Homo sapiens: one gene and its partners. The protein of the gene in region 3 purifies or fractionates together with the protein of the main gene of each other region. This does not show direct contact. Each region holds a gene or a part of one and is shown on either strand. Other genes may lie near its edges.

Region 1 (3,748 bases), on a different chromosome or scaffold from region 3:
ACTCTTGATTTACTTATTGACTCATTTATTTGGCTGAGCCCGGATTGCATTTGATATCATGGCGACAACTAGTCTCACGGCTTCCTTTTCTCTCCTGCGGCTCCGGGGTTTTACAGGTAGCTTGGAGCCTCGGAGGAAAACCAGGAGGCGGAGGGTGAAGTAAAAGAATGAACCTAAACTCTTATTAACCACTTTTGTTCTGGGAAGCAGGCTGGTTCGTGCTTCTCCGTACTGGAGAGATTTCTTTCAGTGCAACTGAACTGCCCACGACCAGAACACGCTCCAACCAGTTAGTTATAAAATCCTAACTGGACTTTAGGGGGAGACTAACTGAGGTAAGGAGGGCGGGAGAGCGATGGGGCTTTAAGATGAAAGACTGTATGTTTCTTAGGAACAGAAGTATTTTTAAACAGGTAAGAGCAATTGTTCGCTCCTCACCTGTGCTCCATGCAGTTGCTTTCCCTTCGGGGAAAGGTAGGTGGTGGAAAGAAAAAGGATCAGTTTCAGAGATGTCACCTCCATCGGCCACCCACCCACCCAAAAGCACTTAGGGCAGAGAGGGAGGCCGTTTCGGGGGTGTAATCCGAATACAAAACAATCAGGAGTAGGAATCTTATCAGAAAAAGCCTATTCCAGTTTCACTTCCACCTCACCCTTCCCAGAAAAACTTCCACCTCACCGAAATACCATAAAACCTGCTGAGATTTTTAAACTGCACGATCACTCACACATACACACACACACGCACACGCACACACACACACACACGCGGCACCGCTCTCTCACCTTCGGAATGATGAGGCAATACTGCAAATTCCGCCAACGCTAGGGCCAGCCCGAGCCACACTTTGAGGACACCCATCGCCGCCTCGGCACCCACGATGGAGGAGCCCAGCCTTCAGCATCCAAGAAGCGGCTCCGCCAAAACGCTGGCTCCGGCGCTTGGAACCCGGGCGCACTGAAGGTGGGGGACCGCGGGCCTTTACCTCCGGGAAAAAGAGATGGACGGGCGGAGAGCGACACTCATCAGCCCGGAGGCGCCGGAGCGGGCTGGGGTTCAATTCACTCGCTGCTCAGGCAGAGAGCGCGCCGAGTTCCCCCGCAAGGCAGGACGCCAACGTGAGCTTTGGGAGAATAAGAGGAGGCAGAGCACAGTTCTCCGCGTCAAAATCTCGCCGGAAAGTTGCTGGTCACTGGCCGATGGGATCTTCCAGCATTTCCCTCGGGCTAGACCCTTCCGATCCCGGGTCCCCGACAGTGGAAATCCTGGCTCTGGTTTGTCCGAAGCAGCTTTTTAAAGTTCGCTTGGCACCATACGTCGGCGTTGCGTCGGCACCGCGGGTCGCCGGGAGCCCCGAAAGACCCACCCACACCCACTCCTTGGTCGAGCCACCCGGCTCGGCAGACCTCATCTGCCGGGGTCCGCTCGCTGGAAACTGTGCAGCGCTGAGGGCAGCTCCGGGGACTCGCCCGCCCTGCAGCCGCACCGCACCACACCGCCTCAGGCTGCGCTCCCTGAAGCAGACTGTTCGGAAGCTTCAGAGGAAAGACTGGGGGGCGCTGCTGCTACTTTCTCGTCCCCGCCCCTCGCCTGGGTGAGGAGGGCTGCGGGGACGCGGCTTGCTGCACACCAACACCCACCTCCGCGCTGAACACCCCGGAGGAGGTCTGCAGGGTAGAGGTGCAATGATTACGGGAGTGGAAGAAGAGCCATAATTTTAATTGCACGGAGGAAAAAGCTAGCGAGGCTGGAAAAGACCCCCAAACTCAAGGCCACTCTGGCGAGAGAGCCTGGAAACGCCCAAAATACGCCGGGTCTGGACCCCGTGTTTAAAGGACACACGTTCAGCCTTCCTCTAGTCTCCCTTGCCTCCTTCCTCTCTGCTTTGCTCGGTGTGAAAATGGACCCAGAGACTCGGAGCTTTGGCGAAATTCCAGAGAGTCACGTGGGGAAAGGGAGAAGCGAGGAGGGAGGTGAGGGGAGGCCGGGAGAGCAACCTGATCCCTTTATTCATTCTGCTGGAGTTCAGATTGGCTTTGTCTGGGGAGGAATCAAAAGTGCTCATACCGGGGACGGAGGGGGTGGAGATAGGTTGCACAGTTCTTGCTCAGGCACACCGGAAGGCAGATGAACCGTGTCCACATCCCTTGTTAGGGGAGGAACCGATTCGGCGGGCTGGGGGAGCGTGTGCCCACATCAAAGGCCCTGGGGCTACCTCCCACCCCCACAGCCCGCCACTCCTGCTGAACTAAGTGCGTCCGGGGGACCTGATTGATCCTTCTTCCTCGCTCTGGGACCCTCAGGCTGTTGCATCCTGGCTTTTACCAGCAGCCCGGGAAGATCTTGGTGTGTGTGTCCTAGGCGGAGCCTGAGAGCAAATGCACCTTTCCCTTTCCCTAGGAGACTCTGTCAGTGGAACACAACGCGGTCTGGGAGCTGTGGGTCCAGCTGCGCCCCCAGATGCCAATGGCTGGGAAAGTAACATCAGGACACGGCCGACTGGGGCGCGCACTTGAAGAGCAGAGGCCTTGATTCCCCGCCAGGACTGACTGACGGCAGCTATTTTTATAGGACCGAATAAAAATAGCTGGTCCACGTTTAATCGTTTTATAAGGGAACAGTTGCATCAGAGAGATGCTGACTGGGTTCTGATTGGCCCAGAGAAGAAACGTCTCGGGTCCCTCAATTGAGTCGGGATGGGCGAAACTGTTGGAGGGGAAGCAGTTGCATGAGCTGTGCTGGCGGGGGTCCCACTTGTTTCCAGTCTTCACGAACACCATGACGCGGGCCCACGTTCTAACGTGCACTGACGCCACTTGGAACAATTCACTTTTCCGAATAACTGGAATAACTTGAAACTGGCAGGTCCCTGTCAGTGTTACTATTCAGCCAGAACAAAGGAGAACCTCTGACAACCTGGCTCTGAATCTTAAGTATTTGGAGGACCCAGGGTTTGCACATTTCGCCCTCAGTCTCTCTGTTGGGCTGTGGTCATTCTAGGGACAGAGGTTGTATCATCTTTGTATAATTGAAGCACATAGTAGGTGCTCTTTAAACATTTGTTGAAATAATGGATTAAGTGCCTGAGAGCAGCGGCCATATCAAGGGGAGCTGCGGGCCTTAACCTCCTCCCAAAAAAAGACCCCTCCCTTTTTATTTAGAAAGTAGGGCCTGTGCGGTGGCTCACGCCTGTAATCCCAGCACTTTGGGAGGCCAAGGCAGGCAGATCACGACGTCAGGAGTTCGAGACCAGCCTGGCCAACATGGTGAAACCCCATTTCCACTAAAAATACAAAAATTAGCCACGTGTGGTGGCACATGCCTTTAATCCCAGGTACTCTGAAGGCTGAGGCACGAGAATCACTTGAACCCGGGAGGCAGAGGTTGCAGTGAGCAGAGATCTCACCACTGCACTCCAGCCTGGGTGACACAGCGAGACTCTGTCTCAAAAATAAAGGTCGGGCGGGGCGGGGGGGTGGAGGACATCTTCTCAATCCATGTAAAGTGATGTGCAAATTCAAACTCAGCTTCCAACACACTCTGACAACCAGACGGTCACCCTTAAACCCCCTCCTAATTTTGCAGCTGCTACTGAATGGGAGTAACTTAAACCGTTTGTTCTCTCAAAAATCAACAATTTGATTTTATTTTAAAAATCAAGCTGGGTGCAGTGGGGTGCACCTGTAGTCTCAGCTACTCCAGAGGCTGAGGCGGGAGGATCACTTGAGCTTGGAAGTTGGAGGCCAT
Region 2 (3,748 bases), on a different chromosome or scaffold from region 3:
GCTCTTGGGGGAAAAGTGTAGCTATCACATCATCCTATGGGAGAATCAGGCACAACACTTATTCCTCTTCCTTTCAGCCCCCATTATATCCCCAGGGACAATCACAAGAATCTGGAAAATTACTGTATGTTGTTATTCTCTTCTGAGTGCCTGTGCATCTCTTAGGTGTCTTTAAAGATCATATAATGCTCCCTATGCCTTATTTTAGCTAATACACACTCATCTTCACTATTAGGTCACCTGATTTTCACAGCAACTCTATGAGGTGGATGGAGTAGGTATTATGGCTCCCTATCTGAAAAATGAGGAACTGAGGGTCAGGTTGGTTGATAAAAGTAAAGACCCTGGAATTTCACTCAAACCTGACTCTTAGTCTTGTTTTCTTTCCGATCTAATTTTACTCTCAGGATGAACTCAAATTGGAGAGTTTATTGGTATTGATTGTTCCTCCTTGGTACCCTTTGATGTAGAGATGGATAATCTGTTGAAACTAGTGAGAACACTCATGAGTAATTTTACTCTAAACTATGTGCAAACTTTATTCTGGTAAAAATAAAAATTGACATATATATGCTGTGCATATGTACATATATTACACACATACATATCTGTGTATATATCATATATAAGTATATGTGTATATATGTGTGTGTGTGTGTATTCTAGCATGCATTAATGTCTATAAGCATTTATTTTTACCAGCCAGGAAGCTAAAGTCAGCTTTTCTGTCATTGATCACAACCTGAATTAAATGAATAAAAAAGTCCCAATGCAGAGCAATGCCTGGAGATACTTCAGCCTTGGTAAAAACCAGACACTGCTTCACATAACTTGAACCGACAACAAAAATATCCCTCCCTGCCCAGGGGATATTTCTGGGTCAGGACTCCCTCTCTCAGCCAAAGAGTCAGACATTGCTGAAAATTTTCTCACTGTACTACCCTGTTTCTCTGGCTGACCTTTAAGGTTAGGACCTCTGGATGTAAGCCCATGAAAGACAGTGATAAGGCAAAGTCAGCTGCCTTTAGGCTCACAAAAATGCAGTTTTTCACTTCAAATAGACCCCGAAATCCCCAATGACCACATACAAACCATTCCTTATCTATGAGGTTAATGCAGCAGACACGCCATCACCAGACCATGCACTCTGAATTGTTTTTTCCAGCAAAGGTTCCCCTACTATCCCTTCATTTGCCTCATCATAAGAAATATGCATATGAGAGTGGCTAGCAGGGGTCAGGGCTGAGGATCTTGAGCATGAAGAGTTGCCCTGTGCAAAGCCAGATATATCACACAGAGACCAATCTGGGACTACAGCACCAACTAACTCTCCTGTTTATAAAATGCCTAAGAATTTATTAGGCAAGCACAATCCACTCCCATACAACCCATCAGACTAACCACATCCCCTATTTCCAGGACTATCCATAAGCACCCAGAATTCACTGCCCATGTGAATCAACATTTCAAGCGTCCTATAATATCCACAGCTCAAAATTAATCAGCAGGGTGGGAGGTGTTCAGGACATCTCTGAACAAAGTTCTCCCTGCGAATGTATCTCTTCCTACCTACTTGGAAAATGCTTCTTCTAGCTTTACTCATACAAACTACACTCAGAATAAAAAATAAAATGTAAATGCGAATATGATTTAACAAAATTTTTCAGGTTATTTTTCCTCCCTTTTGTCCATCCGCAGTATGCTTATCCTGTAACATTTCATGGCCTATGACTAGGATGAATGAGGGAAGAGGGCCCTGCCATGGGAAATCAATCCTAATTGTTTAGAATCTAACATAAAACTATTTTTAAACTATTAATATTTTAAATTACTCACTGAAAGGGAAAATCATTTTCCCTGCCTACAAAGCTATGATATGGTTCTTACAATTCAATCTTCAAAAATATATTTTCCTGATCTTCACATTTCGCATCTCCATTTTTAAAATGTCTTCCTTTCTCCTTATCTAAAACTTTGGATCTCAATTATTTTGACCTTTCTCCTCAGATTCAGATTAAACAAACCTTTCGCTGCAAGCCTAACTATGTGCTGAGCAATGCATAGTTAACTCACTCTATTATCTAGAGATTTATCATTTTACAGATGAAGGAACAGAGGCTCCATTAAGTTCAGTGACTTTCCTGCTTTCACAGCCTCGAAAGTGGCCTCTCCAGAGTTTCCAAGTCCACATGCTGTCAATGGGGGGGCTCTAGGTAAAATATTTTTCCAGTATGGCTTGCATTTAGTTTTATCCTTCAGAGGTGTTATTCAAATTGTTATGTGGTTTGGGGAAGGGGCTTTGCTACTGGTAATCTCAGGCTGGAATCAAGGATTATAAGCAACTCACAGAAGGATAAATACAGCTATTGCACATTGTAAACAATCTGTTTGTTCACAAGGGATCTTCTCCCTGAATTCAAATAACCAGACATTAATTCTTCTTTGTAGATTTACTCTAAATGGAGGTCCACAATTAACAACATGTCAGGTCTTATTCCTTTATATCATTTCAATTGCCTAACCAGTAGATTGTTAGCTCAAAGGGTCAGAGCACATGATTAGTGAGGGAGGACAAAGGCTTCTCCCTCTATTCCCGTGCAGGTCAATAGGCATGCACACCTCCTACCCTCGGCCAGCTCAGAAGGTGCTGGTTCCACTAGATACTAAGAGGGCTGGTAGTCAGAACTTGTAGGGAAGAAAAGCAGGGCATTCTGCAGCTGACTCCGATACCAACCAAAAGATAATATATGCTAACATGACAACAACTAACAATGATTATGGTTAAGTATTATTATTGCAGGATTTCAAGGCACAACCATTCACAAAATATAAACATTTTGTGAAAACATATGCTAGCTCTATGAACAAAGGCAAGAAAACCTTCATTTATGTTCCCTTCTGGAAATCAAGCACGTCCTTTTTGCTTGTTTGTTTGCTTTCTTCTTGTGTTACTCTGCACATCCCATCTTTTTTTTAACAGAAGAGGCACAGCTATTATTTTCCATAGAAATGCCCTGGCCAGAAATCTTACCTCTCGTGACTTTCAAATGCTAAGATGCTACACAAAACATTACATTGATATTCTGAGCAAATGGTCAAAACTATACCTTTACTGTGGTGAAAATTTACTACCTTACTCACCTAGAATATCATACCGAAGATATAAAAAATACTACCAGGATAGTAAATGACTGCAGAAATAATAACAAGTTTCAGTTCCAATTTGCAACACGTAAGATGAGACCCCAAGCCCAAATGGGTAAAAAACAGAACATTCCAGACGCATCTGCAAATTAGTTACTGCCCTCAGCTGATCCACAGCTGGTTTACTGATGGAAAGAATAACAAAAGGATGTCTAAAGTGTTGAAAGGTCAGAGCAGTAAAGGATGAATAAGAAATACATTTGGCCTGTACAGTGCAATGATATTGCACGTGTGAACTCCATTTACCACCCCAAAGACTTAGCATAGGCTTAAGCTCCTTTGATCTACAGAGGAAATGCTCTCCACTGTAGAATAGCTGATCTTTTTACACTGGTTCAAGGGGTCCTCTGTAACCTCTATAAGCACTAAATTTCCTCATTGGCGCTGTAAAACCACAATAAATCATCCTTGGTGTTATTTGTATGTAAACTTTCTTAGCATTATTATTTTTAATGAGAAGCCATGAATCTTCACTATAAGGCCTTTTGTAAATAGTCAAGCAGAGGTTGCAGGACATTGCAATGTTTGCTTGTTCAAAAGTGGA
Region 3 (3,748 bases):
AGCCCTGCTCACCCAAGAGACCTCTTCCCCAGTTCCAGTTTGGCCCCAAATGGTTGCCTCTCCATAGACAAAATGTTTCCCACCTCTCTATCCCTTTAACTGTTTGACAGTAATGCAGATTCGTTTATCAGATTAACTGGAAGTCAATCCAGGTTGGCACCCCTGGAGAAGGCCTGGCCACCTGAGCTGCCTTCAACTAAAGGACTGATCTGTAATAGACACTTTAGCCTCATGTGGCCGTGGAGAACCAAAATGATCTATGGAAATGTAGGGAAACTCATTTTAGCTCACAACAAAGGAGTCACTTTTTACCTGTTAGAGATGTCCAATATTAGAATGGGCTACCTCATAAGGTAATGAGCCTTGTCACCCAAATGCTTTAAACAGAAGCCATCATCTGTCACATGCCAGAGGGTGCCCCTCAAGAGTGGGAGAGCAGGGGCTGAACTGCTGAGTTCCCGCTGCGTCCTGTTGCTATGCTGCCTGCACCCTTGGTGGGGAGAAGAGAAGAGGTGGACTGCTGCGGAGGACCTGGCAAACAAGGACCCAGGTCTTGAGGGGATGGGGGCTGATGGGGAAACCGTAGGGTGTGGGAATTTAAGGATTAGTGACATTAGTAACATCACTTCCTCTCAAATTGCGTTTACAGCCTTTACTCGACTGTCCCAAACATGGCCTGTTTTACAAAGCTGCTAAGAAGCACAGCTCCAAATCTGGAGCTGTGAGTGCCCGCCCTGACTCTGACTAGCTTACAGTGAAGCTTTGGGAAGTTGTTTTCCGCTGAGCTCTTATTTTCTCATCCAGAAAATGAGGGGGTAGGATTTGGTGAGTTATAAAGTGCCTTCTAGCTCTAGCAGTCTGTGACTGGCCCTGCTCTTTCTGAGCAGATCAGTGAGGCAATGACCCCAAAGCGGGGCTGCCCAGAATCACCACAGGCTTCCTTTGGCTCTCCACCTTGCCCCAACCCCTCTGGCCACTGCTGCCTGGGGGTCTTTCTCCAGCTTGCCACATTCTTGCTCAAGTGTAGTTTAGCACCATGGATGGACAGCAGATTTGAATTTGAAATCAGCCCTAACATTAACTAGCTGGGTGACTTTTAGTAACTTTCTTTCTTTGAGCCTTAGTTGCCTCATCTATAAAACCAGAGTTGGACAAATAGATCAGCTTTGCTGGGGTTGATAACTTCAGGCCCTTTCAGGAGTCAGGTCCCTGTTATTCCAGGGCTAGGGGAGCACTCCAGCTCAGAACGTTACTCTGTAGCACAGGATGCGAATCATCCACTGATACCGTGGCCATGCAACTCTGAAACAGACAGCAACCCCCAAACCCCCGGCCCTGCCACCAAGCACATCTCAGGAGACCTCCACTGGTATAATTTCCCTTGTCCCTAAGAATCTCCTTCCCCAATCCCTTTCCTTTGCAGTTAGAAAAAGGCAAGCAGGACTGAGTTTAGTGGTTTTAAAATTAGGGGTGTGGCCAGGCACAGTGTCTCATGCCTGTAATTCTAGCACTTTGGGAGGCCTAAGCAGGCGGATCACTTGAGCTTAGCAGTTCAAGACCACCATGGGCAACATGGCAAAATCCTGTCTCTACAAAAAAATACAAAAGTTAGCTGGTCATAGTGGTGTGCCTGTGGTCCCAGCTACTCAGGAGGCTAAGGGGGAGGATGGCTTGAGTCTGGGAGGCTGGGAGGTGGAGGTTGCAGTGAGCCGAGATAACACCACCACACTCCAGCCTAGGTGACAGAGCCAGACCCTCTCAAAATAATAGTAATAAATAATAATAAAGTTAGGGGTGATCAGGCCCTGAACAGGGAAATGTTCTGTCCAAGGTCACAGAGCAAAGAGAACCCAGGTGTCCACAACTCAGCCAAGAGTCTTGACCCCTGTGTCGTCAGCTGCACACACGCTGCACACTCCACCAGCTCCTAGGCTTCTCTCCACATCTGACTTATCGAGGCCTGGGCTGTGGGTAGCTTTTTGGACAGAAAGAAGCAGAAAGCAGCAGGAGCTGCTCTCCGAGGACCGCACCTCAAAGAGCAAGATCCCCCAGGTGGGATCGCTCTGAGGCTTCAGGCAGGGGAGGCTGGTTTGAAAGCCGATCTCCAAGAGGGCGTGGCTCCAAAATGCTGGCAAATAAAAGCCTGGAGAGCCAGCACCAAGCTGGAGACCAGCAGGAGGCACAGGAAAACTGCAAGCCGCTCTGTTCCTGGGCCTCGGAAGTGGTGAGCTCGCTGAGGCAGGAGGAGCTCTGGGGAGGGTCTGGGAATGTGGACGAGGGCCCTGCAGGCCAAGATGGGGCAGATGGAGGGAGGAAGATGTTTGCGCTCCAGATGGCGAAGAAAATTCCAGGGAAGGGAGAATCACTGCACAGAGGGCTGACACACAGGTCCTTTCCAGAGACAGCTGCTCACACTCACACCCATACACACACACACACACACACAAAGGCAGATACAGGGAAAAGGCAGCACCATTCAGGCACACCTCACCTGTCAGACCAGCCAGCCCTGGCTCACTCACCTGGAATGCAGTATTTAAAGAACTCGCCATCCCACCTGCACACCCACGTAGAGACATCTCCCCACTGTGTTTCAGATGCCTATGGCGTCCCCTCAAACCCTGGTCCTCTATCTGCTGGTCCTGGCAGTCACTGAAGCCTGGGGCCAGGAGGCAGTCATCCCAGGCTGCCACTTGCACCGTGAGTACCTCTGGGACCGGAGGGCTAGGAGCAGTGGAGGTTCTGGGTGGGAGCAAAGAGCTGAGTGGACGGTGGGGCAGGCAGCACCCTAAAGGGCCCCACACTGAGGCACAGGCAACGGGAGCTGGGGCGAGGCAAACCTTGGCAGAGGCGCCGTCTACTGCTTGCCTATCTCCTTCTAGCCTTCAATGTGACAGTGCGAAGTGACCGCCAAGGCACCTGCCAGGGCTCCCACGTGGCACAGGCCTGTGTGGGCCACTGTGAGTCCAGCGCCTTCCCTTCTCGGTACTCTGTGCTGGTGGCCAGTGGTTACCGACACAACATCACCTCCGTCTCTCAGTGCTGCACCATCAGTGGCCTGAAGAAGGTGAGGAGGGCCCGGGCCCGGTGGATGGACGCTGGGGTCGCGGGAAGACCAGAGAGATGGAGATCCTAGACAGCCCTGAGAAAGGGGACTGCAGCACGGACTCCCCTCTCCCGCAGGTCAAAGTACAGCTGCAGTGTGTGGGGAGCCGGAGGGAGGAGCTCGAGATCTTCACGGCCAGGGCCTGCCAGTGTGACATGTGTCGCCTCTCTCGCTACTAGCCCATCCTCTCCCCTCCTTCCTCCCCTGGGTCACAGGGCTTGACGTTCTGGTGGGGGAAACCTGTGTTCAAGATTCAAAAACTGGAAGGAGCTCCAGCCCTGATGGTTACTTGCTATGGAATTTTTTTAAATAAGGGGAGGGTTGTTCCAGCTTTGATCCTTTGTAAGATTTTGTGACTGTCACCTGAGAAGAGGGGAGTTTCTGCTTCTTCCCTGCCTCTGCCTGGCCCTTCTAAACCAATCTTTCATCATTTTACTTCCCTCTTTGCCCTTACCCCTAAATAAAGCAAGCAGTTCTTGAATTTCTCTCTTTATTAAGTCTACCCCCAGCCACGGAAAGAGGAGTAGACCATGATTACTGTGAACCCCCCCTTACCCCAGGACACTGTGAATCTCTTCTTGCCTGTGCCCTCCCCCTCCCCCTGCCCAATAAATAAAAAGGGGACAAGGAAGTACACAGCGA

The links.
Region 1: the proteins of GPHA2 (region 3) and FRAS1 purify together in Homo sapiens (affinity purification with mass spectrometry; 3 studies listed by BioGRID and IntAct, with this or other methods). This does not show direct contact.
Region 2: the proteins of GPHA2 (region 3) and PCSK5 purify together in Homo sapiens (affinity purification with mass spectrometry; 3 studies listed by BioGRID and IntAct, with this or other methods). This does not show direct contact.

What each region holds. Positions count from the first base shown.
Region 1 is NC_000004.12:78,055,124-78,058,871, reverse strand, and holds the start of FRAS1 (extracellular matrix organizing protein FRAS1 isoform 1 precursor), read right to left. Parts: upstream 1,550-3,748; 5' UTR 863-1,549; coding exon 787-862; intron 1-786. UniProt on the Homo sapiens protein: Involved in extracellular matrix organization. Required for the regulation of epidermal-basement membrane adhesion responsible for proper organogenesis during embryonic development. Involved in brain organization and function.
Region 2 is NC_000009.12:75,893,613-75,897,360, reverse strand, and holds part of PCSK5 (proprotein convertase subtilisin/kexin type 5 isoform 3 precursor), read right to left. Parts: intron 1-3,748. UniProt on the Homo sapiens protein: Serine endoprotease that processes various proproteins by cleavage at paired basic amino acids, recognizing the RXXX[KR]R consensus motif. Likely functions in the constitutive and regulated secretory pathways.
Region 3 is NC_000011.10:64,934,310-64,938,057, reverse strand, and holds GPHA2 (glycoprotein hormone alpha-2 precursor), read left to right. Parts: upstream 1-2,164; 5' UTR 2,165-2,224; intron 2,225-2,597; coding exon 2,598-2,700; intron 2,701-2,882; coding exon 2,883-3,067; intron 3,068-3,183; coding exon 3,184-3,285; 3' UTR 3,286-3,587; downstream 3,588-3,748. UniProt on the Homo sapiens protein: Functions as a heterodimeric glycoprotein hormone with GPHB5 able to bind and activate the thyroid-stimulating hormone receptor (TSHR), leading to increased cAMP production. Plays a central role in controlling thyroid cell metabolism.